2 separate regions of the Homo sapiens genome follow, and region 2 is linked to region 1. Evidence: fine-mapped expression QTL. A gene starts in region 1. The other region holds a variant in brackets. All regions are shown on one strand. Distances are between the middles of the regions. Region 1 holds the start of ARHGEF17-AS1 (ARHGEF17 antisense RNA 1). Region 2 overlaps ARHGEF17 (Rho guanine nucleotide exchange factor 17).

The links.
Region 2: its variant is fine-mapped to the expression of ARHGEF17-AS1 in thyroid (GTEx, PIP 0.93).

What each region holds. Positions count from the first base shown.
Region 1 is chr11:73,301,890-73,313,959 of GRCh38, forward strand. It overlaps ARHGEF17-AS1 (ARHGEF17 antisense RNA 1), which reads right to left and starts at 7,472. Exons shown (of 3, transcript NR_147696.1): 1 at 6,783-7,472; 2 at 5,993-6,675; 3 at 5,622-5,667. ARHGEF17 (Rho guanine nucleotide exchange factor 17) reads left to right here and starts at 6,387. Exons shown (of 21, transcript NM_014786.4): 1 at 6,387-9,941. The coding sequence starts at 6,750. RefSeq lists silencers at 5,759-5,898, 6,299-6,628, 6,859-7,078 and enhancers at 6,499-7,376, 7,382-8,202.
Region 2 is chr11:73,362,422-73,374,491 of GRCh38, forward strand. ARHGEF17 (Rho guanine nucleotide exchange factor 17) reads left to right here. Exons shown (of 21, transcript NM_014786.4): 14 at 12-313; 15 at 785-1,034; 16 at 1,326-1,412; 17 at 1,751-1,818; 18 at 2,031-2,179; 19 at 2,969-3,143; 20 at 3,257-3,526; 21 at 5,163-6,967. The coding sequence ends at 5,359. Among named protein-coding and RNA genes, the nearest start is that of RELT, 7.9 kb to the right of the region's middle. RefSeq lists enhancers at 1-133, 1-77, 3,925-4,094. The variant C/T (reference allele first, on the strand shown) is at 5,587.

The DNA of each region.
Region 1 (12,070 bases):
TGATCTTCCCGCCTCAGCCTCCCAAAGTGCTGGGATTACAGGCATGAGCTACCGCATCCGGCCTGGGCAAGTTATTTCATCTCTCTGTGCCTCAGCTTCATTATTATTCCCATAACATTATTATAAATGTCTATCTTTTTAAAGCCACTAGTTTTGGGGGGGCTTTTGTGACCCACAGCCAAAACTAATACCTTTACTTGGGTTCCATCCTGGGATGGTGGACCTTAGGTGCAGGCGAGGCAGTGACCTGGACAGAGATGGGGCCAGGGTCTAGGCTGGAGTGGGAGCTAGGAGCCAACAAGGTCTAGGGACACCGGGAAGGCTGCTTAGAAAAGATGCAGAGCCTGGGGAATGGTCAGCCCCAAAGTGGCTTGAGCTCAAGTGGGTGGGTGGGCTTCATGAAAGAAAGAGTGGGAAGAGGGGAGTCGTTCTGGGAACTCCAAGATTAGGGAGCTGAGGAGAAGGAGCCACAGACGTGGAGGGCAGGAGCCCAGGGGTCTCTGAATGATGGTGGTATGAGGGGAGAGTGGAGCTGGGTGAGTGAGTGAGAGGTTTCAGGGAAGGAAGTAGGGGTAGTAGGCGGAGAAGAGAAGAGGGAGAAAGATTCCAAGAAAGGCCAGGCCCAGGGATGGAGTTTCCAGGACAAAGTTGTTGCTGAGAGTTGGCTGGTGGCAGTTGAGGGCAGAGAACCCGGGTGGGGTGGGGGTGGGGAGGTAGGAGCAAGGATTGGGAAGCTAGAAAGTCGGGAATCAGTGACTGTCTTGGGGAAATTTCCATTCCAAACAGGAAAAGCCCAGGAGCATTTGATCTGTCCTAGCAATGGACAAAGCTGGCCTCTTCCTCCCTCATTCATTTGTTCAATGAATATTGACTCTGTGTTTCTGAGACGAGCTCAGGTCCAGGCCCTAGTCTTGGGAAAGAATCCAAGGGGTTTGGGATGCAGACAAGGAAACAGTTCATCCAGTAAACAATACTTATTGGGCACCTCCTATATGCCAAGCATCATGCTGGGCCCTCAGGGAGCCCCTAGTCTGATGGAGGAGACAGGTAATAATGAAACATATACAGACCTGGATCATTACAGCTGGGGAAGAGAGCTCAGATCATAAAGAGGACCCAGGCAAGGAAGGTATCACTAGGGAGATGATGAGCTCCTGGAATGGTCCATGGCCAAGAAATGCTAAATACCAGAGGGGCCCTGACCTAGTTGAGGGGCAGAAAATGTATCTGAGTGAGGCCTAGAGCCTCAGAAGGCCTCAGAAGGCATTAGCTCAGTGCAGAAGGGCTGCAACAGAGTCTGTGACTTTGACCAAGCACCTTCACTCCTCTGAGCCTCTGTTTCCTTACCTGTAAAATACTAGACCTTCCTAAGCCACCAGGGATACCGAGGAATAGAAAAGTTAGAGCAGAAATTTCATAAAGTACTAAACATACTATAACCCAATAGAAAAATGAGCAAGAGGCACAAATAAGCACTTCATATGAAAGGAAACACAAGGCCAGGCGTGGTGGCTCATGCCTGTAATCCTAGCATTTTGGGAGGCTGAGATGGGCGGATCACAATGTCAGGAGTTTGAGACCAGCCTGACCAACATGGTGAAACCTTGTGTCTACTAAAATATAAAAATTAGCTGGGCGTGGTGGCATGCACCTGTAATCCCAGCTACTTGGGAGGCTGAGGCAGGAGAATTGCTTGAACCTGGGAGGCAGAGATTGCAATGAGCCAAGATCACACCATTGCACTCCAGCCTGGGCAATAAGAGAGAAACTCCGTCTCAAAAAAAAAAAAAAAAAAAAAAAAGGAAACACAGATGATTAAAAAACATAGACGAGAAATTAGATCCCAGCTTGACAATGCTTCCCAATGTTGATCAATTGCCTGCCCTATGCCCAAGCACTTCTGTCCATGTGTACCTGGAGTCATGCACAATGCTCAGCAAACACCTGGAAACACCCAAATGTGCATCAGCAAGACACTGGATCAACACACTGTGATATAGTCACACACTGAAATAGTCCACATGGCCAGAATGGAGTATAGAGGCATGCAACAATATGGGTAAATCTTTTCTTAATATTAAGAAAAAAGAAGTCCCAACAAATTTTGTAAAGCAAGAAACCCCCCTCCTTTTTTTTTTTTTTTTTTGAGACAGTCTTGCTCTGTTGCCCAGGCTGGAGTGCAGTGGTGTGATCTTGGCTCACTGCAACCTCCACCTCCTGGGTTCAAGTGATTCTCCTGCCTCAGCCTCCCAAGAAGCTGGGATTATAGGCATGCACCACCACGCCTGGCTAATTTTTGTATTTTTAACAGAGGCTGGGTTTCACCATGTTGGCCAGGCTGGTCTTGAACTCCTGGCCTCAAGCAATCCACCCGCCTCAGCCTCCCAAAGTGTTGGGATTACAGGCGTGAGCCACCACGTCCAGCAGGATGCCTTTTTTTTTTTTATAAAGTTAAGAACAACTAAAATGAAAAGATATAGTTTGAAGGAATATATAGTTTGAAGGAATATGTTTGAAGGAAAGCAAGAGAATGCTGAACACAGGATTTGAGATGATGATTTTCTGATTTTCTGTGTGGTGGGACAGCAGGAGGATGGGAGCAGAAGAACTGTATAATGAGATGTGAATTATTTTAAAGGTCCTAGTTGTATTGTTTTGTTTTTTGGCGAAAGCCAATTAAATAACTGATGAGAATGTATCATTATCAAAATATTATAAAGAATTTAATCCTGTGTGCTTAAGGTCTAATTATATAGGAAAGGGGGCAATCTCAGATAGTTTCTATTTGGCTTTGCAATGGAGTCAGAAGAGTCAGATTTCCCCCTAAGACAGCTCCTTCATGGAGCTCATTGCTTCTTGTCCCCGCACTCATCATTTCTCTCCCTCTTAAGTACAGTTGCTCCTCGACTTACGATGAGGTTACATCCCAATAAACCCACTGAAAATATTATAAGTCAAAAAGACATTTAATACACCTAGCCTACCAAACATCAGAGCTTAGCCTAACCCACCTTAAACAGGCCCAGAACACTTCCATAGCCTAGAGTTGGACAAAAATCATCTAACACAAAGCCTATTTTATAATAAAATGCTGAATATCTCATGTAATTTATTGAATACTGAAAGTGAAAAACAGAATGATTATATGTGTGCTCAAAGTATGGTTTCTACTGGATGTACATAGCTTTTGCATCATCATAAAGTCAAAAAATCATTAAGTTGAAATATCATGAGCTGGGGACTTATCTGTACCCGAAGCCCACCAAAGCCCATCACTGGCCATGACCTGTGACCTTCAAAACCTTCCCATCTTGATTTCCCCAAGGGATTCCACGGTCCTCACCTCACTAGATCACCATGACTCACTGGGTAGATGGGCTATTGTTTTCATTACCCTTTCATAGGTGAGGAGCCTGGGGCCCAGAGAAAAGGGGGTGAGCTGCGGAAGGTGAGCCTGGCTTCAAAACCCCAGCGTAGGGTTTCTCTCCACTCTGGTGCCCAGTGCTCCCAGCCCCCTATCAAATAAGTCTTCTTGGGGCTAAAAATTGCTGTACATAATTACCAAGCACCATTAAAATTCCAGATCTCTTCTGTTCATGGAAGATAACTTTGTCTTATACTGGATCATAAGGAGCTGGGGGTGGGAGGGTTCCTGAAGCACTGGAAGCAATCAAGCCACTCTCAGATTGGGTGAGCTTCCCTTTGGACAGAGACCCAGTCTAGATCCTTAAACACCCCCCTCCCCACCAAGGGGATTCCTGAGCCAAAGGCCCCAGCCAGCTCACCTCAAGGCCAAGCCACAGGACTCTGGGAGCCCATGACCTGAACCTCCACTCCTCTCTATCCACTTGCCCATCTGTGATATGGGATAAGGGTTTCTGTCCCAGAACTGACAGGGAGGTGGAAAAGTACAAATTTCAGATAGTAAGAGTCATCATTATGGGGGGAGAGAGTGACTCCTGGGATGAGAGTCCTGTCCCCCACCCCTCCACAACCCACCCCTCCACAACTCACCCCTCCACAACTCACCCCTCCCCAACTCACCCCTCCACAACTCACCCCACAGCACACACCAAAACTTGCCCCAAAGAGCAGAAAGAAAATACTAAAGGAGGTGAGAGTCTGACATCAAATGCCAGAGCCAGAGAGGGCACTCTTGGGGAACCTGAACCACTCCTCACTTTTCAGACACCCCACTCCTCACTTTTCAGACACCAGCAAGTGCAGGGATTTACCCAAGGTCACAGAGTAAGGCCGAACAGAGAGGCACAGGCCAGCAGGGCTCTCTTTTATCAATTTCCTAGAGAAAAGGGAGAGATTTACTCCTTGGCCCCCTTGAGGCAGAGCTGAGATGAGGTTGAGGTGAGGGACTCCCTGGATGCTGGTCTCAACACAGAGAGGAAGCACTTTCTTGCTACAGAGATATTCCACAACTCAAGAGGCTGCCCAGAGAGTGGAGAGTGACCTCCTCATCCTGTGGGGTATATGAGTAGCAAGCAGGTTCTGGAGTCCCGGCTGAGTCCTCTCTCTCTCATTCGGTAGTCAGGCAATCCCTGGGTGTCTACCATCCTTTCCTATCCTCCTGCCTGCCCCTCTCCTCTGAACCCCGTCTCCTAGCCTAGTCTGGCCCAGCTACATCTCCTTGGCTGGACCTGGTGGCAGTGGGGTTGGCTGGGTAATGCACAGACTGCTGACCTAACTATGTGTCCCCGAGGCCTTGCTACTGGGGGTTGGAGGGGCCAGGGCAGTTTGACCAGGCCTGAAGAAGGCTGGGCAGCGCTGGAGGGGCATGGGTCAGACCAGGTTATCCTCTGTTCCTGAGGAGAGTGAGCTCAGGCCCAAGGAGGAGAAGGAGGAGACTGGGGGCTCAAAGGAACGAGAACCTCCTTCTTCATCAGGATTTGGGGGTGCATCTCAGAGCTGGCTGGAGGAGCATGGTGTTTGAAGCCCCTGAAATCTGAATTTTAGCAGGAGCTGCTATTTCCTGACTTGCATAGTGGTCAAAGTTACTTCTCCTTCACGGTCCACAGAGAAGGGGTAATAATATTTGTCCCCAAGGGTGGTTTGTGGATTTTAAAAAATAAGTTAAATAATATTGCCCATACATTATAGGTACTCCATACATTTTCATTCGTTCGTTCATTCGTTAGTTGGGCCGGGAGGATGAATGGGATCTAGAGGCAGGTGGGAATGCGGAAGGGGATGATGCCCCAATACCGAGAACAATGTGAGACTCAGACGGAGGCAGGGGCGGGAGGGGAGCTCAAGCGAGGGATCAGCGTGAAGCCAGAGAAACAACCGACACTTTTCCTGCCAAGAAGGTGAAGCAGCTGCGGGTAAGAGTATAGGTTTGGCAGTGGGAAGTCGAGGGCGTTCCCGTCGAAGCTCCTTTTGTGTATAAGGCCTAAGAAGGGGCAGTGCGCTTTGCGAAGGTCTGAAAAAGACTAAGGGGATTAGGTAACGACTGAAAGGAAGTTTTCACAACTCTCCGTTTTTGGGGGATGGGTGCTGCTTTATCCGTCCAGGACTCCGTGCGTTGGGAAAATCACGCCGCGAGGGGGCGCAAGAGCCGCGTACTCCAGAGCAAGAAGAAAAGGCTCGGGGATCCAGGCGGAGAGTCCAGGAGAAGAGCCGCCAGACTGCAGGGGCAGGTGGAAGGCGTGGCAGCTGGAAAAGTAGGGGTGGGGGCGCGGTCGTGAAGGGTGGGACTTCTGGAGCAACGCTGGGCGGGTTGGGGGCCGGTCGGAGCCGGACAGGCGGCTGGGAGGTGGGATGGGCGGGGCGCTTGGGAGCGAGATGGGGGGACAAGGGCGTGGCTACAGCTAAATTCGCCGCAGAGGGCGGGCGGGGAGGGGGAGGGAAGGGGAGGAGGCGTGGCCTGGGCGGGGAGTAGGGCGCGACGGACCCTTCAGTTAGCCCGCGGCTCCCCGGGCTCTCCCTGGCGCCGAGTCCCACCCCTTTCCCGGCCCAGAGAGTGTGCGTCTGCGTGCACCTGAGTGTCAGTGTGTACGAGAGTTTGTGAGTCCGAGGTTGCCATGTTGGAGCCCCTGGGCAGGAGGTGTTTCCGCGCGGAGGCTGGTGGCCCGCGGTGGACGCGGCGCCCTGGCTGCGAGTCTGCGGAGCTGAGCACGCTCAGCGGTTGTGTGTGTCTCAGCGACTCCCTGGGGGCAGCTCGGCCTGCTGGGCTCCCGAGGGACCTCTCTGGAGGGCCAGAGGGTCGCCTCAGTCTGCAAGTCCTCCAGCAGGCTTTTTCTTCTTCGGCTCCTCCCTGATTCCCTCCCACCACGCGGTTCCCAGGCTCGCGCACGCCCGGAGCCCACCCCCTCTTTTGGGCGCGAGGCCCCGCCCCCCGCCCCCTTGCCTCTGCCGCAAAGTTTATTTGCAACAAAAGGGTGCCAGGAGCGAGCAGCCAAGGGCGTTGGGCAGGCGGACGCAGAGTCGAGGAACCAAGCGCTGGGATCCCGCCCAGGCGGTGCCGCGGTGCCCCTGGTCGCTCCAGCCGCGGCGGGGGCTGGGCCTGGGGGTCGGCGCTGAGGCGGGAGGGGCCGCCCGGGATGGAGACGTTGCGGCCGGTGGCCACAGAAACTTGAGCCGCGGCAGAGAAACCTCTGCTCCGGTCTCTGCGTCCTCTTCCCACACTCCCGTGCGCTGCTTTCGGCGTGGGCCGCTGCGCTCCTAGGGAGTGGGGGCGCAGGGGGGGTTGGCCGCGGCTGCCCGAGGCCAGCCCCCCCGGAGTGAGTTACGCCACTATGGCGGACGGGGCACCCCGGCCCCAGCTTTACCGCAGCGTCTCGTTCAAGCTGCTGGAGCGCTGGAGCGGCGGCCCCGGGCTGAGGGAGGAGGACACGGACACCCCCGGCTTGAGGCGACGCGCCTCGTGCCGGCCGACCACGGCTGCCCGGGGCCAGCCCTCTCGGCGCGTGTCCAAGCTGGCGTCTGGGCCCCTGGCCGCCCCCGCGCAGCCGCGCCCGCTCCGCAGCCTCTCGCCGTCGGTTCGCCAGCTCTCCCGGCGCTTCGACGCGCCGCGTCTGGACGACGGCTCCGCTGGGACCCGAGACGGAGGCGTCTTACCCGCGGCCGCGGAAGAAGCGGCCGAGGGCCCAGCGCGAGGAGCCTGGCCCAGCGTCACCGAGATGCGCAAGCTCTTCGGCGGTCCTGGCTCCAGGAGGCCCAGCGCCGACTCTGAATCCCCAGGAACGCCCAGCCCCGACGGTGCCGCGTGGGAGCCTCCGGCTCGGGAGTCGCGGCAGCCACCGACGCCACCCCCTCGGACATGCTTCCCCCTGGCGGGTCTGCGTTCGGCGCGGCCCCTGACCGGGCCGGAGACCGAAGGGAGGCTGCGCCGGCCGCAGCAGCAACAGGAGCGGGCGCAGCGTCCAGCGGATGGTTTACATTCTTGGCATATCTTCTCCCAACCGCAGGCCGGGGCCCGGGCCTCCTGCTCCTCCTCCTCCATCGCCGCCTCCTATCCTGTCAGCCGCAGTCGTGCTGCCAGCTCCAGCGAGGAGGAAGAGGAGGGCCCGCCGCAGCTGCCTGGAGCCCAGAGTCCGGCCTACCACGGCGGCCACTCCTCGGGCAGTGACGACGACCGAGACGGTGAGGGCGGCCACCGCTGGGGAGGGAGGCCCGGGCTCAGGCCTGGAAGCTCCCTATTGGATCAGGACTGCAGGCCTGACAGTGATGGGTTAAATCTAAGCAGCATGAACTCAGCAGGGGTTTCTGGGAGCCCTGAGCCCCCAACATCTCCAAGAGCCCCTAGAGAAGAAGGACTCCGGGAGTGGGGTAGTGGCTCTCCGCCCTGCGTCCCAGGTCCCCAGGAGGGACTTCGGCCTATGTCTGACTCTGTGGGAGGAGCTTTCCGTGTGGCCAAGGTGAGCTTTCCCTCGTACCTGGCCAGCCCCGCAGGCTCCCGCGGTAGCAGCCGTTATTCCAGCACGGAGACCCTCAAGGACGACGACCTATGGTCTAGTAGGGGTTCTGGGGGCTGGGGCGTGTACCGCTCCCCTAGCTTTGGAGCTGGGGAAGGGCTCCTGCGGTCCCAGGCTCGAACCCGTGCCAAAGGACCTGGAGGCACCTCTAGGGCATTGAGGGATGGAGGATTTGAGCCTGAAAAGAGTCGACAGCGGAAGTCCCTGTCAAATCCAGATATCGCCTCAGAGACCCTGACGCTTCTCAGTTTCCTGCGCTCAGACCTTTCAGAGCTGAGGGTCCGAAAACCTGGTGGGAGCTCCGGGGACCGTGGAAGCAACCCCCTAGATGGCAGAGACTCACCATCCGCAGGTGGCCCTGTGGGGCAACTTGAACCCATACCCATCCCAGCCCCAGCATCACCTGGCACGCGCCCCACACTCAAGGACTTGACAGCCACTCTGCGGAGAGCAAAGTCATTCACCTGCTCTGAGAAGCCCATGGCCCGCCGCCTGCCCCGCACCAGTGCTCTGAAGTCCAGCTCCTCCGAGCTCCTGCTCACAGGCCCTGGTGCCGAGGAGGATCCGCTGCCCCTCATCGTCCAGGACCAATATGTGCAGGAGGCCCGCCAGGTTTTTGAGAAGATCCAGCGCATGGGTGCCCAACAAGATGATGGAAGCGATGCCCCCCCTGGAAGCCCTGACTGGGCAGGGGATGTGACCCGAGGGCAGCGGTCCCAGGAGGAGCTCTCAGGCCCTGAGTCCAGTCTGACAGATGAAGGCATTGGGGCAGACCCTGAGCCTCCTGTTGCAGCATTTTGCGGCCTGGGTACCACAGGGATGTGGCGACCTCTTTCCTCATCCTCGGCCCAGACGAACCACCATGGCCCTGGGACTGAGGACAGTCTGGGCGGGTGGGCCCTGGTGTCGCCTGAGACCCCTCCCACACCAGGTGCCCTCCGCCGACGACGCAAAGTCCCACCTTCAGGTTCTGGTGGGAGCGAATTGAGCAATGGGGAGGCAGGGGAGGCCTACAGGTCCCTGAGTGACCCAATTCCTCAGCGCCACCGGGCTGCCACCTCTGAAGAGCCTACTGGGTTCTCTGTGGACAGCAACCTCCTGGGCTCACTGAGCCCCAAGACAGGGCTCCCTGCCACCTCAGCCATGGATGAGGGCTTGACCAGTGGTCACAGTGACTGGTCTGTGGGCAGTGAAGAGAGCAAGGGATATCAGGAGGTTATTCAGAGCATAGTTCAGGGGCCTGGCACCCTGGGGCGTGTGGTGGACGACAGGATTGCTGGCAAAGCCCCCAAGAAGAAATCCCTGAGTGACCCCAGCCGCCGTGGGGAGCTGGCTGGGCCTGGATTCGAGGGCCCTGGAGGGGAGCCCATCCGAGAAGTTGAGCCCATGCTGCCTCCATCCAGCAGCGAGCCCATCCTTGTAGAGCAGCGGGCAGAGCCAGAAGAACCTGGTGCCACCAGGAGCCGGGCACAGTCTGAAAGGGCCCTACCTGAGGCTCTGCCTCCCCCTGCCACTGCCCACCGAAACTTTCACCTTGACCCCAAGCTGGCTGACATTCTGTCCCCGAGGCTAATCCGCCGAGGCTCCAAGAAGCGCCCAGCTCGGAGTAGTCACCAGGAGCTTCGGAGAGACGAGGGCAGTCAGGACCAGACTGGCAGCCTGTCTCGGGCCCGGCCCTCCTCCAGACACGTTCGCCATGCCAGTGTGCCCGCCACATTTATGCCTATTGTGGTGCCTGAGCCACCAACTTCTGTTGGTCCCCCTGTGGCTGTGCCAGAACCCATAGGCTTCCCTACCCGAGCCCATCCCACGTTGCAGGCACCATCGCTCGAGGACGTCACCAAGCAGTACATGCTGAACCTGCACTCCGGTGAGGTCCCTGCCCCAGTGCCAGTGGACATGCCCTGCTTGCCTCTGGCTGCACCGCCCTCTGCTGAGGCCAAGCCCCCTGAGGCAGCTCGGCCTGCAGATGAGCCTACCCCTGCCAGCAAGTGCTGCAGCAAGCCACAGGTGGTGAGTCCTTTGTAGGGGCCTTCAGATTGGGGCCAAAGAAGGGCCATGGGCACCGACTTCGGTTGGAGCCTTTTGCATTGTATTCACTGGTCAGGTGCCCAGGTGCCAAGGGTGCTTTTCTGGTCCTGGAAGTGCCTGTGCAGTTTTAAGAGTTGTTAATGACACAGGGCTCCTGTCTACTCAGGCCCTGTAGAAGCTTCAGTTTTCTGCTGGTGCTAATGGCAAAGGGTCTTGTCTGCTCCAGGTGTTCTGGGTGGTAATTACAAAGGATTCTTATCTTGTCCTTTGGATGTTTCTCAGGGACTGGTTTTGGAAATCCCTGTGTGGTTCTTTGTTGGAGGGATGAGTGTGATGGCACCCAGCGCAGGCTCAGTCCTTTCTCTGAGGCTTGCTACTCTGTTGGCCAGACCCTTGATAGGATGTTTGGCTCAGGGGCCACAGTTGACATGGGTTTGCCCTTCTTCGTGTGGCTTTCCTGTGACAGGTCAGAATATAGATGTGTTCCTGGGCCTGGGAGAATTGGGGAGGTACAAGGCTTTACTTTATGGAGGAGCAGAGGGGGCTCAGGGTTCTAACTGCAGTTCTGTTCTTGCTGTGTGACATTGGCCTTTCTCTGTGACTTAATCTCCCCAATCAGGGGAGATAGGTGGACAAACTAGTGCCTATGTTTCCATCCAGCTGGTACTGTGCAGATTTGGGGGAGCCTGCGGTTTTGAGTTGGGGACTCTTGGGGCCTGAGTTCTGCCAGAGCCTCCTCAGATGAAAAAAGCTTCTAGATGGGGGCTTCTAGGGGAGGATAGAGGCAGGGAGGGGGCTGCAGAGGCTGGGCAGCCAGGGCCCTTTAGAGAGGTCAGGAGTGGTTCTGGGCCCCATATTCAGGGCTGCCTCTATGGGTCTGGGGGGTCGGTTCTTGTTCCCCCATCCTGTCTGCTTGCATCTTTTCCCCACTCTACCCCCTTCTTGGTGACTCTGAGATGCACCCCGTTTCTGCCAGACCCCCAGCCCTGGGGGCTCACTCTCCCTGAGACCCCTCCTTCTACCTTCTGGCTTCAGCTATCCCTGGAGTTTAGGCTGTGGATTCAGATGGGATCCAGATGGCATATGCCCTGGCATCTGGGTTGGGAGCTAGATTCCAGGCTGTGGATTCTGAGCTGAGCTCAGCGATGGCCAGTGGTTACTTCAACTGTGGCCTGCGCTCCCACTGCGCTCCCTGACTGTGTGAGAAGCCTGGAAATTATAAACCCTGGACTGATTCAGTCACTCCCTTTCCCAGCACTCTCATGGCCCCTCTGAACTCCCTTTCTCTTTGTTTCTCTCTCCTTGTCTCCAGTTACCCCTGGTCCTGGCTCTGGGGTTTCTCATGGAGGCTGCAGAGAGAGCAGGCAGGGAGTGGGGAGCGGGGCGTTTTGAACCTGTCCTTCCTTCTGAGTCCCAGTGAGGGCAGCTCCGGTGCCCCTGAACTCCAGTGCCAGTTCTGAAGGTGGGGGAGGGGAGGAAGACAGCAGGTCCAGTTCTTGTCAGGGGTCTCCTCCCCAGCCTCCTTTCCCATATATCTTTTCTGGGAGCCTTGAAGGCTCAAATGGGGGAGAGGACAGGAGTAAACCAAGGGACTCAGGGAGACTGAAGGTGGGTTGGGGGTGCTTCTAAGAGAAGGCTTTGAGACCCAGAGAGGAGGTGGGAGTTTACAGAACTTCTCCTGCCCCACCTCCCTTCACATTCTCCTCTACCCCCCACCCCTTTCTGGAGCTCTGAGGCGGGACAGATCTGCCATAACATGGGCTTCTCCCTGCCACGAACAGAGGCCTTCTCTGATCTCCAAGCTTTTGCCCACTCCAGGCCTCTCACTTTTCCAGGCCCAGCTTGATGTCCCCTTAGGGGGAGGTAACTGGTGAGTCTGTCATTAGAAGAGCAGGGTGTGAGCCTTGCTCTTCTGATCCCTGTGTGGCCTAGGATCCATCATATCCCTGCTCTGTGCCTCACTTCCCCCTTCCATAAAATGGGGGTAATGGCCTCTGCCTGGCAGGCTGTCTCTTGTGGTGAATGGGTGGTGTGATCATTTCCTCTCTGGTAGCAGGAAAGAAGAAAAATGGAGGCTGCACTGCCCAGCTGCTTCTCAGCCACCAGGCTTG
Region 2 (12,070 bases), 61 kb after region 1:
TCTTCTCGCAGGGAGCCTCCTCCGTCGCTGAGGAGTCCTCCAGAGACGGCACCGGAGCCCGCCGGGCCGGAGCTGGACGTCGAGGCCGCTGCAGACGAGGAAGCCGCGACGCTCGCGGAGCCGGGGCCGCAGCCCTGCCTTCACATCTCCATTGCAGGCTCGGGCTTGGAGATGACGCCGGGCCTCGGCGAGGGTGACCCCCGCCCAGAGCTGGTGCCCTTTGACAGTGACTCTGACGATGAGTCTTCGCCCAGCCCCTCGGGGACGCTGCAGAGCCAGGCCAGCCGGTCCACCATCTCCTCCAGCTTTGGCAGTGAGCTTTGGCCATCTCCTCCAACTTGGCCTTGGCAGGCAGGGTGGACTGCCCAGAGGAGGGGGAGAGGAGGGACCAGTGTAGGGCAAAGGCATGGCGTCAGACCTCAGGATGTTAGCACACAGAGCAATGAGGGCAGGGGATGTGACACCAAGGATCCAGAGGACAGTGGGACAGTCAGGCGGGATCATGAAGACCCTGGAGCACTCAGCTAAGGAAGATGGGGTGCTGGTGGAGTGGGGACCCACGGTGTGGCCACTGGGTCTGAGGGGCCAGGCAAGATCAAGGATTCTGTAGTGCTGAGCTGTCGGTGAGCAGGGCAGCAGGGCAGCAGACCGGAGCAGGCCGGGGAAGAACAGCTTTGAGAGGCCTTCCGGAGGGGCATGGCCAGGAGGGATGCATGGCCTAGAAAGATATCAGGTCCCAGGCCTGGCAGAGGGAAATGGAGACAGAGACCTTTGTCTCCCTCAGATGAGGAGACCCCGAGTTCCAAGGAGGCCACGGCAGAGACCACCAGCTCAGAGGAGGAGCAGGAGCCAGGCTTCCTGCCACTGTCTGGCTCCTTTGGGCCTGGTGGTCCCTGCGGCACCAGCCCAATGGATGGGAGAGCCCTTCGCCGCTCCAGCCACGGCTCCTTCACCCGGGGCAGCCTTGAGGACCTGCTGAGTGTCGACCCTGAGGCCTACCAGAGCTCCGTGTGGCTGGGCACTGAGGATGGCTGGTAGGGACAGGGGAGGGACTAGGGACACAGTGCCAGAACTCTGAGCTCCCTGCTCTGGAAATCATGTGGTCCCCTGGAGCCAAGGCAGGAGGGCTTTGGGTCACACCTCAGGGGTACTGCTGACCAGGGATGTCAGTGGGTCTGACAATCCCAGGGAGGCTGTGGGACCTCAGTACCTTGGGCAGGCACCCAGCATTGAAGACGTGGTGCTAGGGGCAAAGAGGTGGAGGGATGACTCCAGGGGCTGGTGTGCCCCAAGCATTTGTCCCAGGTGCATACCCCGATCCACAGTGTCCACGTGTACCAGTCCTCCGACAGCATCCGTGACCGCAGGAACAGCATGAAGCTCCAGCATGCGGCCTCTGTGACCTGCATCTTGTAAGGCCCCAGGGTGGCCCTTCCTATCTAGACTCTTCTCAGCCACACGTGCAGGCCTCCTTCTGTTCATCTGGTCCCCCTGCTCTACTGTCCCTCCTCTGTGTGGAGGCTGGAAGCCAGAGGCCTGGCCCTAGGCTAGCTGTGCCTCTTACACACTGTGTGAGCTCGGGCAAGTCACCCCCTTTTCTTAGCCTCAGGCAACCCCCACCTGGAGAACAAGGGGTGGGAAGAGGTGGCCTCTCGGGAGCCATACCCATTCTATCTGTGGTTCCCCTGGTCCTGGGTGACCCACTTTGGCTGCCTGAACTCCCTTACTGCTTCCTCTTTTCCCTACCCAGGTATCTGAATAACCAGGTGTTTGTGTCTCTGGCCAATGGAGAGCTTGTGGTCTACCAAAGGGAAGCAGGTGAGTATCTGCCCTCCCCCACACCCTGCCCCTGTCCCCTTACTGGTGTTGGGGCTCTCTCCTGGAGATGTGGCTTTGGGCAACTCCCAGGCCCTCTGTGGGCCTTGGTTTCTTTGCTTATAAAAGGGGAATGTTAACATCTCATTTCAGGGGAGACCGAGGCTCAAATTTAGAACTGGAGTGAATTTCCTGTTTTCTTTACCCCACTCCAGGCCATTTCTGGGACCCCCAGAACTTCAAATCAGTGACCTTGGGCACCCAGGGGAGCCCCATCACCAAGATGGTATCTGTGGGTGGGCGGCTGTGGTGTGGCTGCCAGAACCGAGTCCTTGTCCTGAGCCCTGACACGCTGCAGCTGGAGGTAGCAGGGGGTGGGGGAATGGAATTGGTGCCATGGGATGAGCTAGGTCCGTGTGACAGGGAGATGGAGACCATGGTAGGGGCATAAGCAGCATCCAGCAGAGGGCTAGGGCCTTCCTCTGACCACAGAGTGACGCTGGCCAGTCCCTGTCCTCCTTCGATCCTCATTTCTTCTGTAGCTGATGAGGAATACAGTAAGTGTCCCATATACATTAGGAATCTTATTCATCCTCCTGCCCACCCTATCTCTCAACTCAGGTTTTAGGGTCCTTTGGGGATAGGACAAGAGTCCTTTCTGATGTCAACATCCATTAGCATTAGACTCTGGCATTTATTGCTGCACATGTCACTTGCACACATGTCAGAAGTATCCAGGGGCAACGGGTTCCCTTAATTTCCCTCACTTATTCCATTGTTGGCTGGGCAGGAGTCCAAAGCCCTGGGTTCAGGCCCCAGCTCTGTGACTGACTTGCTGTGTGACCTTTCCCTTCTAGGCTTCAGCTTCCCCACCTGTCCAGGGGGAGGCCAGTGACTGATTTTAGAACCCTTTAAGCATTGAAGTTCTCTGATCCTTAAATCACTCAAGTTTAATGGGGAAAAAGCACCTCCATTGTAATTCCTGAGAACTAAGTTGGGAGGTGCTGGTGAAACCAAGCTTCGAAAGGTTAATCAGACCAAGGACCAACGCTAGTGTGAGTTGTGAGGGATGGACACTGGTGAAGCTCCAGGCTAGGGTGGGCCAAGGGAGGCAGGCCTGCCAATGACCCATCTTCTCCCCCGCCTTCCCCAGCACATGTTTTACGTGGGTCAGGATTCAAGCCGCTGCGTGGCTTGCATGGTGGACTCCAGCCTGGGTGTGTGGGTGACATTGAAAGGTAGTGCCCACGTGTGTCTCTACCATCCAGACACCTTTGAGCAGCTGGCAGAAGTAGACGTCACTCCTCCCGTGCACAGGATGCTGGCAGGTACTGACCTCAAACTACCACAGCACCCTCCTTGGAGCCTTTCTGCCCGATCGTAGAGGCGGCTGAGCCAGGGCCAGAATTCAGCCCCAGCTGTGGTCTGTCTCCCACCCCAGGCTCGGATGCCATCATCCGGCAGCACAAGGCTGCCTGTCTGCGAATCACAGCGCTGCTGGTGTGTGAGGAGCTGCTGTGGGTGGGCACCAGTGCTGGTGTCGTCCTCACCATGCCCACTTCGCCCGGTACTGTCAGCTGCCCACGGGCACCACTCAGTCCCACAGGCCTCGGCCAGGGACACACCGGCCACGTCCGCTTCTTGGCTGCAGTCCAGCTGCCAGATGGCTTCAACCTGCTCTGCCCAACCCCACCACCTCCCCCAGACACAGGTGGGTCAGTGCATCATACCCCAAGCTAGGGATCATGGACATTTGGTTTAGGACTCCCCACTATCCTGCCAGAAGAGCTTTCAAGAGGGAGGAAAAGTGTCACATAGAGCTGGAGGTGGCATATGTGACAGGAAATACACCACGGAAGTGTCCAAATGAAATCTAGGATAGTTGTGTGTGTGTGTGTGTGTGTGCGCACCTGCATGTGTTGTGTGTATATAAAGTTCTATCCAGAGAAATGTCATGAGAGACAGGGAGGGAACTATAACCTAAGAGGTAGAATATGTCACAAATAGAATATGTATATAGAAAATATGTCCTGTTGTATATATTTCCTATATGCACCAGGAAATAGCACAGGACTAGAAATGATATATAGGGCAGGAAGTGGAATCAGGAAGTGATGCACAGAGCAGGAAATAGAAATAGCAACAGAAAACAACATAGAATGGCACTAGCACAGAAAATGGACTGATAATTAGAAAGTGAAACAGCCGGGTGCCAGGCGCGGTGGCTCACACCTGTAATCCCAGCAGTTTGGGAGGATGAGGTGGGAGGATCGCTTGAGCCCAGGAGTTCAGGACCCAGCCTGGGCAACATGGTGAGACACCATCTCTACAAAAAATACAAAAATTAGCCATGTGTGGTGGCACACACCTGTGGTTCCAGCTGCTCAGGAGGCTGAGCTGAGGTGGGAGACTCACTTGAGCCCAGGGAAGTCGAGGCTGCAGTCAGCAGAGATTGCACCACTGCACCCCAGCCTGGGTGACAGAGTGATACCCTGTCTCAAAAAAATAAAAATAAAAATATGGCCGGGCGTGGTGGCTGACACCTGTAATCCCAGCACTTTGAGAGGTTGAAGGGGGTGGATCACCTGAGGTCAGGAGTTCGAGACCAGCCTGGCCAACATGGTGAAAACCCATCTCTACTAAAAATACAAAAACTAGCTGGGTGTGGTGGCGGGCGCCTGTAATCCCAGCTACTCGGGAGGCTGAAGCAGGAGAATCACTTGAACCAGGGAGGCGGAGGTTGCAGTGAGCCAAGAGTATGTGCCATTGCACTCCAGCCCAGGCAACAAGAGCAAAATTCCGTCTCAAAAAAAAAAGTGAAACAGCAGGAAATGAGGTACATCAGGAGGCCACAACCAGAAAAGTCTTGCTTTGGCAGGACAAGAAATGATATTCCCAAGAGGAAGTGGCTGTGGAAATCAGGAAGCAATAAAGCCTCGGGTCAGGAGTTGTCTGGGTTCACAGAAGACTTAAGCTACCTGGGAAAGGGCTGTTGGAAGTAGGAGGCTTATTTAATGCAAGGACGTTGCGTGCAGTAATCAAGAGAGATAGAAAGTGGCATCTTACAGGGCACTTACATTGTAAAAAGAAAAAAATCAGAAGTGGCGTCACCTTGGGAAATTATGTGACTCCTGACTAGAGATTACAGATGGGACATAAGAAGTCTGGCTGCCAAGAAGTGGGCATTTCTTTCTAAATAAGTTCCTAGCTAACAGAAAGTGGGATTCCCCCATAGGAAGTGTGCACATCTTCCTTCCTATCTTCTGGGGTGTGGGAATTCAGGCCCCGATGGGACAGTGAAGCCTCCATTCGCCCCCAAGCTGACAGATCCTCCCCTCTGCCCCCAGGCCCCGAGAAGCTGCCATCACTGGAGCACCGGGACTCCCCTTGGCACCGAGGCCCCGCCCCTGCCAGGCCTAAAATGCTGGTTATCAGTGGAGGTGATGGCTATGAGGACTTCCGACTCAGCAGTGGGGGCGGCAGCAGCAGTGAGACTGTGGGTCGAGACGACAGCACAAACCACCTCCTCCTGTGGAGGGTGTGACCCTGTCTGCCGTGGCCCAGGACTCGCCCGCCCACCTGCCTTCAGCCTGCTTGCCTCTCCCTAGCCCACACGCAGACTTTGACCAGGAGTATCCAGCCAGGGGCACACATGTGCCTGCGTGGGCTCTGCCTTGTCTTCGCGGAAGCATTCCTGATGGAACACCCACTGGCCAGCCAGGCCATGGCTTCTCCCGACCCTCTGGCTGCCCCGGTGCTTCCAGTCATGAT[C/T]GGGTGGGGGACATGTGGGCTGACCAGGACCTCTGACCCTGGAGCTTCTACCAAAGACACAGCTGGGTCTGGACCCCACGGGGCTGGGGAGGGCCATGTGCAATATTTGGAGGGTTTTCTGGAGGGCAGCAGGAAGGCTGGGGAATTCCCCATGTACAGTATTTATGTTTCTTTTTAGATGTGTACCTTCCCAAGCACTTATTTATGCAGTGACCTGGTCACCTGGGGTGGGGGTGATTTGAGGAAATGACATGAGGAAAAGAAACCTATTCCTGCCCTGGGGACCACCCTGGGACTCTAACCAAGCCTTCCTGGAGGGACCCATGCGCCCCTGAGCCCCATTCCATTCATACAGACACACACGTACGCACACTGCATGTCCAAGGCCCTAAACATTGCCCGTTGACATAAACTTTCCAGGGCCCCAGCCTGATGGGGCTGCCCTCAGTCCTCTAGATCAAGATGCTGACTATTAGGGGGCAGTGATTGCCATCTGGGGACCTGTCAGGCTTTGTCATTTCCCAGTTTGTTGGTGGTGCCTTTAGTGGTTCCCTAATTTGGGAACACTGATGGGGCCTTGGACAGGGCTTTCTCTCAGGTAGGAGAAATGGGCCCATGATCTCCTCACAGTCGCCCCCAGTCCTTGGCCCTGCTTCCCTGTGTCTCATGCACTGGCACATATGGTCACCTTGGAGGGCAGACCTAGGAGCCCCTCTGACCACTGAATCCGTCTCCACACCCCTTCTGCCAAGGGAAGCCCCTTCAGGAAGGACCCCCCAAAGCTGAGGGGCTGAATGTAGCCTTTTCAACAGAGAAGGCTCCCACTTGAGAGCAGCCTCTACCTGACCCCCTGGACCACAGAGAGCCACTCTGACCCTCAGCCCCCTCGCTTCTTCAGCTAAAACTCCAAAGGTTTGGTTTCAGATGGGGTTTGTTTTGTTCTGTTTGGTTTTGGTTTTGTTTGGGGTGGGTGGGTCATTGCGGTCTTAGATTATGTTTCTCTTGCTACCAAACAGTCATGTATTAACTCTCTTTGGATGATGAAGTTTAAAGAGTCAATAAATAGAAACACCAGATGACTGCATTGGTGGCCACAGTGGCCTCCTGTCAGCAACCTCAGGGCTCAGTCTCCCTGGCCACATGGGCCTTCCGACGTCCACACACTTGGGAAGAAGGGAGGCCTTGGAGACCCAGAAGAGTGCTGGACGGCGAGGTTGCCACGATTTGCTGTGTTACCTGGGCAGGTGGCTGGGCTGCAGTTTCCTCATCAGGAAAATAAAGGGGTTGTACCAGTTCAGTGCTTTGTAACCAGGGTTACATGGTAGAATCCCTTGCAGATGACATGTAAATGCAGAAACATGATTCGTAACTTATTTACGTATTAATTGAGAGCTTCTGAGTCAGTGGGCCTGGATGGAGCTTGGGAATCTGAAGCTGACATGCTCCAGGTAAAGAGCCAGGACCCCTGTTGAGCCTGTCTACGGCTCCTCCAGGAAACAATGTTCTCCAGCAAAGCCTCAGCTGGAGAACCCTGATGAAGGCCAAGGCCCTGCTCCAACCCTCTGAAGTGTTTGGAGCAGGGATAGAATCCAAGTCTGTCTGATTTCTGGTCTGAAGAGGTCTGTCATTAAATCAGACACAAGAACGCACAGGCCCAGCAACATGGGACTATTCTGTGCAAGGACAGAGAGCCCTCCAGACCAGAGTGCACCTGCAGAACTAGAGGTGGCCATCACTAGAAGGCATGTCGTGCCTCAGCTCTGCTACACGCACGAACGTTTCCAGCCTAAATGACTGACTTTTGAGTCAGCCCCTGAAGGGGCATGCAAGCTCATGCTCTGCAAACTGGCAGCACACCTCTCAGGGGTCTGCTGGGTCCTCAACACCACAGGACGGGCATGGACCGTCTCCGTGCAGCATCATTTTACTGGGGCTATCTGGGGAGGAAGGGATTCTATTAATAAGCACAGATATATTATGGAGTAGGAGGCATCATTCATGTGGAATATATAACGAAACAAAGCATTAGAAGAAACACAGGCTTTGAAGCTGGACAGACCTTGTTTGAGATCTTGACTTTGCCGCTAACTAGCTATGTGCCTTTGGGCAAGTTGTATCCCCTCTGAGCCTCCATTTCCTCACGTGTGAAATGAGGCTGATGATCCCTTCCCGAACAGGACTGCTGCTTGGCGTGCACAGGTCTTTGGATTGCAAGAAAGAGATTCATTTTGCTTGTGAACTAGAAGGGTGCTTATTAGTGAAGATGTGAGCTGGCAGCAAGGAGCTGTCACAGGGCACTGTGGCCCAGACATCAGAGCTGCATCTCAGGACATCTGGCCTCTCCACTTGAGTCGCCAGTGCCTCCCACACTGCCAGTCAGTTGCTGTTCCACTGCTTTCCAGCTTCTGCTGCCTCAGGGCCTCCGCCTCCTCCACTCGGAGGACCCTGGGCAGACTTCAGTTTTAGCACAAGATACCCAAGACCAGATCCTCACCACTTCCCCGACTCAAGTGCCTCAGTAAGAATGGGCTTGGCCCAGCCCACTGTTACTTAGAGGCCCACATTCCAGGGCACTGGCCAGCCTGTGGACAGCCCGGACCCCATCAGCTGTGGGCAGGGAGGCCCTGGAATGAGCATCAGACCCCAGGCTCCCGGCCCAGGGGAGGCTCCTGGAAGGATTACCTCCTCTGAAGCAGTGGTTCTCAGCCTGGGATGCACATTATGATCATGAGGGCCTAGGCCAATTCCAAGCCAATTAAATCTGAACTTTGAGGGTGGGACCCAGGTGTCTATATGTTTTTCAGAAACCTTTAGTTGAAGTATAACATTTATACAAAAAAGGACATAAAAAAGGACCCAGCGTGATGGGTATTCATAAAGTGAACACACCCAGGTCAAGGAACAGAAAATCTCATCACCCCAGAAGCTCCCCTTAGACCTCCTTCTGGTCTGCCCTCCAAGGGTAACCACCACCCCGGCTTCTGACACCATGATCTAGCTTCACCAGCCAAGGTAGAGAACTGCTGCTGTAAAGGGAATGACTATGGTTAGCCACTGGTGTGGGGGAAAGTGGGGCTTGGGTTTGATGTTAAGAGGGAACGCCAGCCTGGCCAACATGGAGAAACCCCATCTCTACAAAAAATACAAAAGTTAGCCAGGCGTGGTGGCGTGCACCTGTGGTCATAGCGACTTGGGAGGCTGAGGCGGAGAATTGCTTTAACCCAGGAGGCCAAGGTTGCAGTGAGCCGAGGTTACACAGCACCCCATCCTGGGTGACAGAGGGAGACTCTGTCTCAAAAAAAAAAAAAGAACAGCTCAAACCAAGGCAAGGAGGGGTAGAGGAGCCTGGTGCAGGCCCAGGTGGATGGGGAAAGAGGAAAAGGCAGGGGCGCCTAGATTGGGAGCTCCGTGAGCGTGGGATTTTGTTCTTTGTTCCATCCCCAGGCCTGCCACAGTGCGTGACACACAGTAGATGCTCAGTAAATATTTGTTGAATTAAATCTGGAGAATTCAGGTGAGAACCAACTCTAGGTCTTGAATGCCACGAAACAATAAACCCAGCTTCCACTTAGTGTTTGCTGCAAGCCAGGAGCATGGATCATCTCGAATCCTCACAATGGTCCTGGGAGGTTGATACCATTATTACCCTCCTTTTCAGATGAGGAAACTGAGGTTCAGAGAGGTTAGATGCCTTCCTCAAGGTCACCTAACCACTAATTGATAGAACCTGGAATCTGTCTGCTCAGGTCTCTGTATCTCATGGAAGAGGAGGGCTGGCCTGGTGTGGCTGGAGGACAGGAGAGACAGCCTGAGCACCCAGAGTCACATGTAGTCACTCATGAGGCTGGACTAATGTTCCTTAGACCAGCCCTGGGAAGGGGATCCAGATCCCAGATGAGTGAGGAGAGTCAAAGCCAGAGGCCATCTCCTCTTCAAGGGAGTTCTCCAGGTGGTCCCTTGGGTTTGGGACAGGGGTCAGGGTTTAGCTAGACCATCTATCTAATGGAAAAGATGAGGCACAGAGAGGGTCAGGAACTTACCTGAGGTCACACAGAAAGGCAACATTGAGGCTGGGGGTAGCTGGGGAGGAGAGCCCAGGCAGGAAGGTTTCCTGTGGTCAGAAAAGCCAGGAAATGACCCTTAAAGCCAGGGGAGGCAGAAGGCTAGACGAGCTGGCCTCCAGGGGCCCCGTCACACACCTCAAACCAGCCTCAGCACTGGGCTGGTCCAGAGGGCTTGGAGGGAGCAAGTCTGGCTAAGGCCTTACCTTAAACCTTCTGGGCAGGGCCTGGGGAGGGCATGGGGGACCCCAGGGCTTGAACTCAAGCTCCAGCCCAGGCTCTCGGCACTGTGTGATGCCAGGCGAGTGTCTGTCCCTCCATAGACCTGGATGACCTCTGTGAGCCCTTTACATCTTCTGCATGCCTGCCAAACACCAAGTCTGTGTCCTCACAGACCTTAAGCCACAGGCCAGGTTGCAGGAAACGGCAAGGGGAAGTCTATTTTAGGCCCAATTATAGCCAATGAGGAGTCCTGCCTGGCAAAGGCAAGTGAGCTGGCATCCCAAGCTGGGTCAGAGGTAGTTTGCTGGGCTGGACTGGGGAGGGAGATAGTGAGCAGGCATCAGGGATAAATCGGGCAGAGCCCCTGCTGCCCAGGGCAAACAGTGCACCAAGGGAAGGGAGAGGAGAGAGAGCTCCTGAGCCCAGCGTCCTGGAAGAAGCTGGTGCCCCCGATATGAGGTCTCAGCAGATCCTCATAACACGCTTGGATGGGCGAGTTCTCAGAGAGGTGAAGTCACTTGCCTAAGGTCACACAGCCTGGCAATGGCAGAAGTGGGACTTAACCACTATCCATGTGACACCAAAGCATATATTCTTCCATTTTCCCCTAGATTTCTCTTCTCCAGGCTCCTTAATCTCAGATGCTTCAGCAAGCCACCTGCCTCCCTGGGCTTGGCTCACACTCCCTAGCTCTTGACCTGCTCATGTTCTGGGCCCAGAGGGTAACTGGACTGCAAGTCTCACCCTGACAGTCCCCAGGGTCCCCACCAGCCCCATTGTCTGCAGTTCATGGCTCTGGGTTCCTCTCTCAGACTCACCATGGGAACAAGAAAACCCTACACTTGCCTCCCTGAGCACCAGTCAGGTGGGCAATAGAACCTGGGATGGATGGAACTGAGAGTGCTGGGCCTCCCATGAGGGAGCCAGTGAGGCAGTCACCAAAGACTTGACACCTCCACCCCAGTGGGATTCCAGACCCAGGCCAGGGTCTGGACCTAAATGCAGGTTGAACCTGGTCCTCAGACCCAGACAGCCCCAGCTCAGCTTCTGGCCTGGCCCCAGGCTGAGCCCTATCCTGGCCTCCTAGCCTCAGTTTCCCCTCAGACTGAGCCCACCCTCCCCTGGAGCTAAGACACAAACACAGGACAGCAGCCCACCTTCTTAGGGTTAGGACTTGGCCCGCTGGGGGTTAGCCTAGGATGGAGCATTGAATTTTATTTTTTTTTTTTTGAGACGCAGTCTCGCTCTGTAGCCCAGACTGGAGTGCGATGGCACAATCTTGGCTCACTGCAACCTCCACCTCCCGGGTTCAAGCAGTTCTCCTGCCTCAGCCTCCCAAATAGGTAGGATTATAGGCGCCCACCACCGCACCTGGCTAATTTTTTTTTCTTTGTATTTTTAGTAGAGATGGGGTTTCACCATGTTGGCCAGGCTGGTTTACAACTCCTGACCTCAGGTGATCCGCCCACCTCGGCCTCTCAAAGTGCTGGGATTACAGGCGTGAGCCACCGCGCCTGGCCTGGAGCATTGAAATTTAAGTATGAGCCTGCTGTTCCTCCAGGCTTGTACTGTATGTACTTCCTTTTGGAATTCTAGCACAGCCAGCAAGCAGAGTGGCACCCACTACCTTTGGTCCATGACTCCAAGGCAGTCATCTACTCAGACCCCTGCATACAGCCACACTGTGGTGGCTCTGATTCTGTGACCCAGGATCCCCACCCCAGGCAGGGCCTGGCTGGGGCATGGCACCTGTACCCCTGCCTCCAGGTCCCCATCACAGCTCGTCCCAGTTTACTGGGACCTTGTGCTGTGTACCTACAATGAGGTGCACACATTCTCTGGGCCCACTTGCCCAGCTGTACCATGTGAAGTTCAACAAGATGGTCTCTGAGGTCCCTGAGCTCAGGGATTCCAGTGCTGACTCCATGGGTTCAGTTGAGATGCCAGGATTTTATAAAGCCTGTGATTCTGAGAGTCCTTTGTTCTCAAGCCTGTGGTTCCCCAAGCTCCATAAAAAGCGAGTCTAAATCTTTCCTGTGGCTTCCACAACTCCTTCCCTGTCTACTCACTGTGGAGCAACCCAGATGCTGGTAGACTCTCAGGGAGGAGCCCACGTCACAGTGGTTTCAGGGTCAGAGCTGGCTGCAGGAGGAGCTGGCGCATCCACCCAGCAGTAAATAATAATTAGGCTCCCTCCTAAC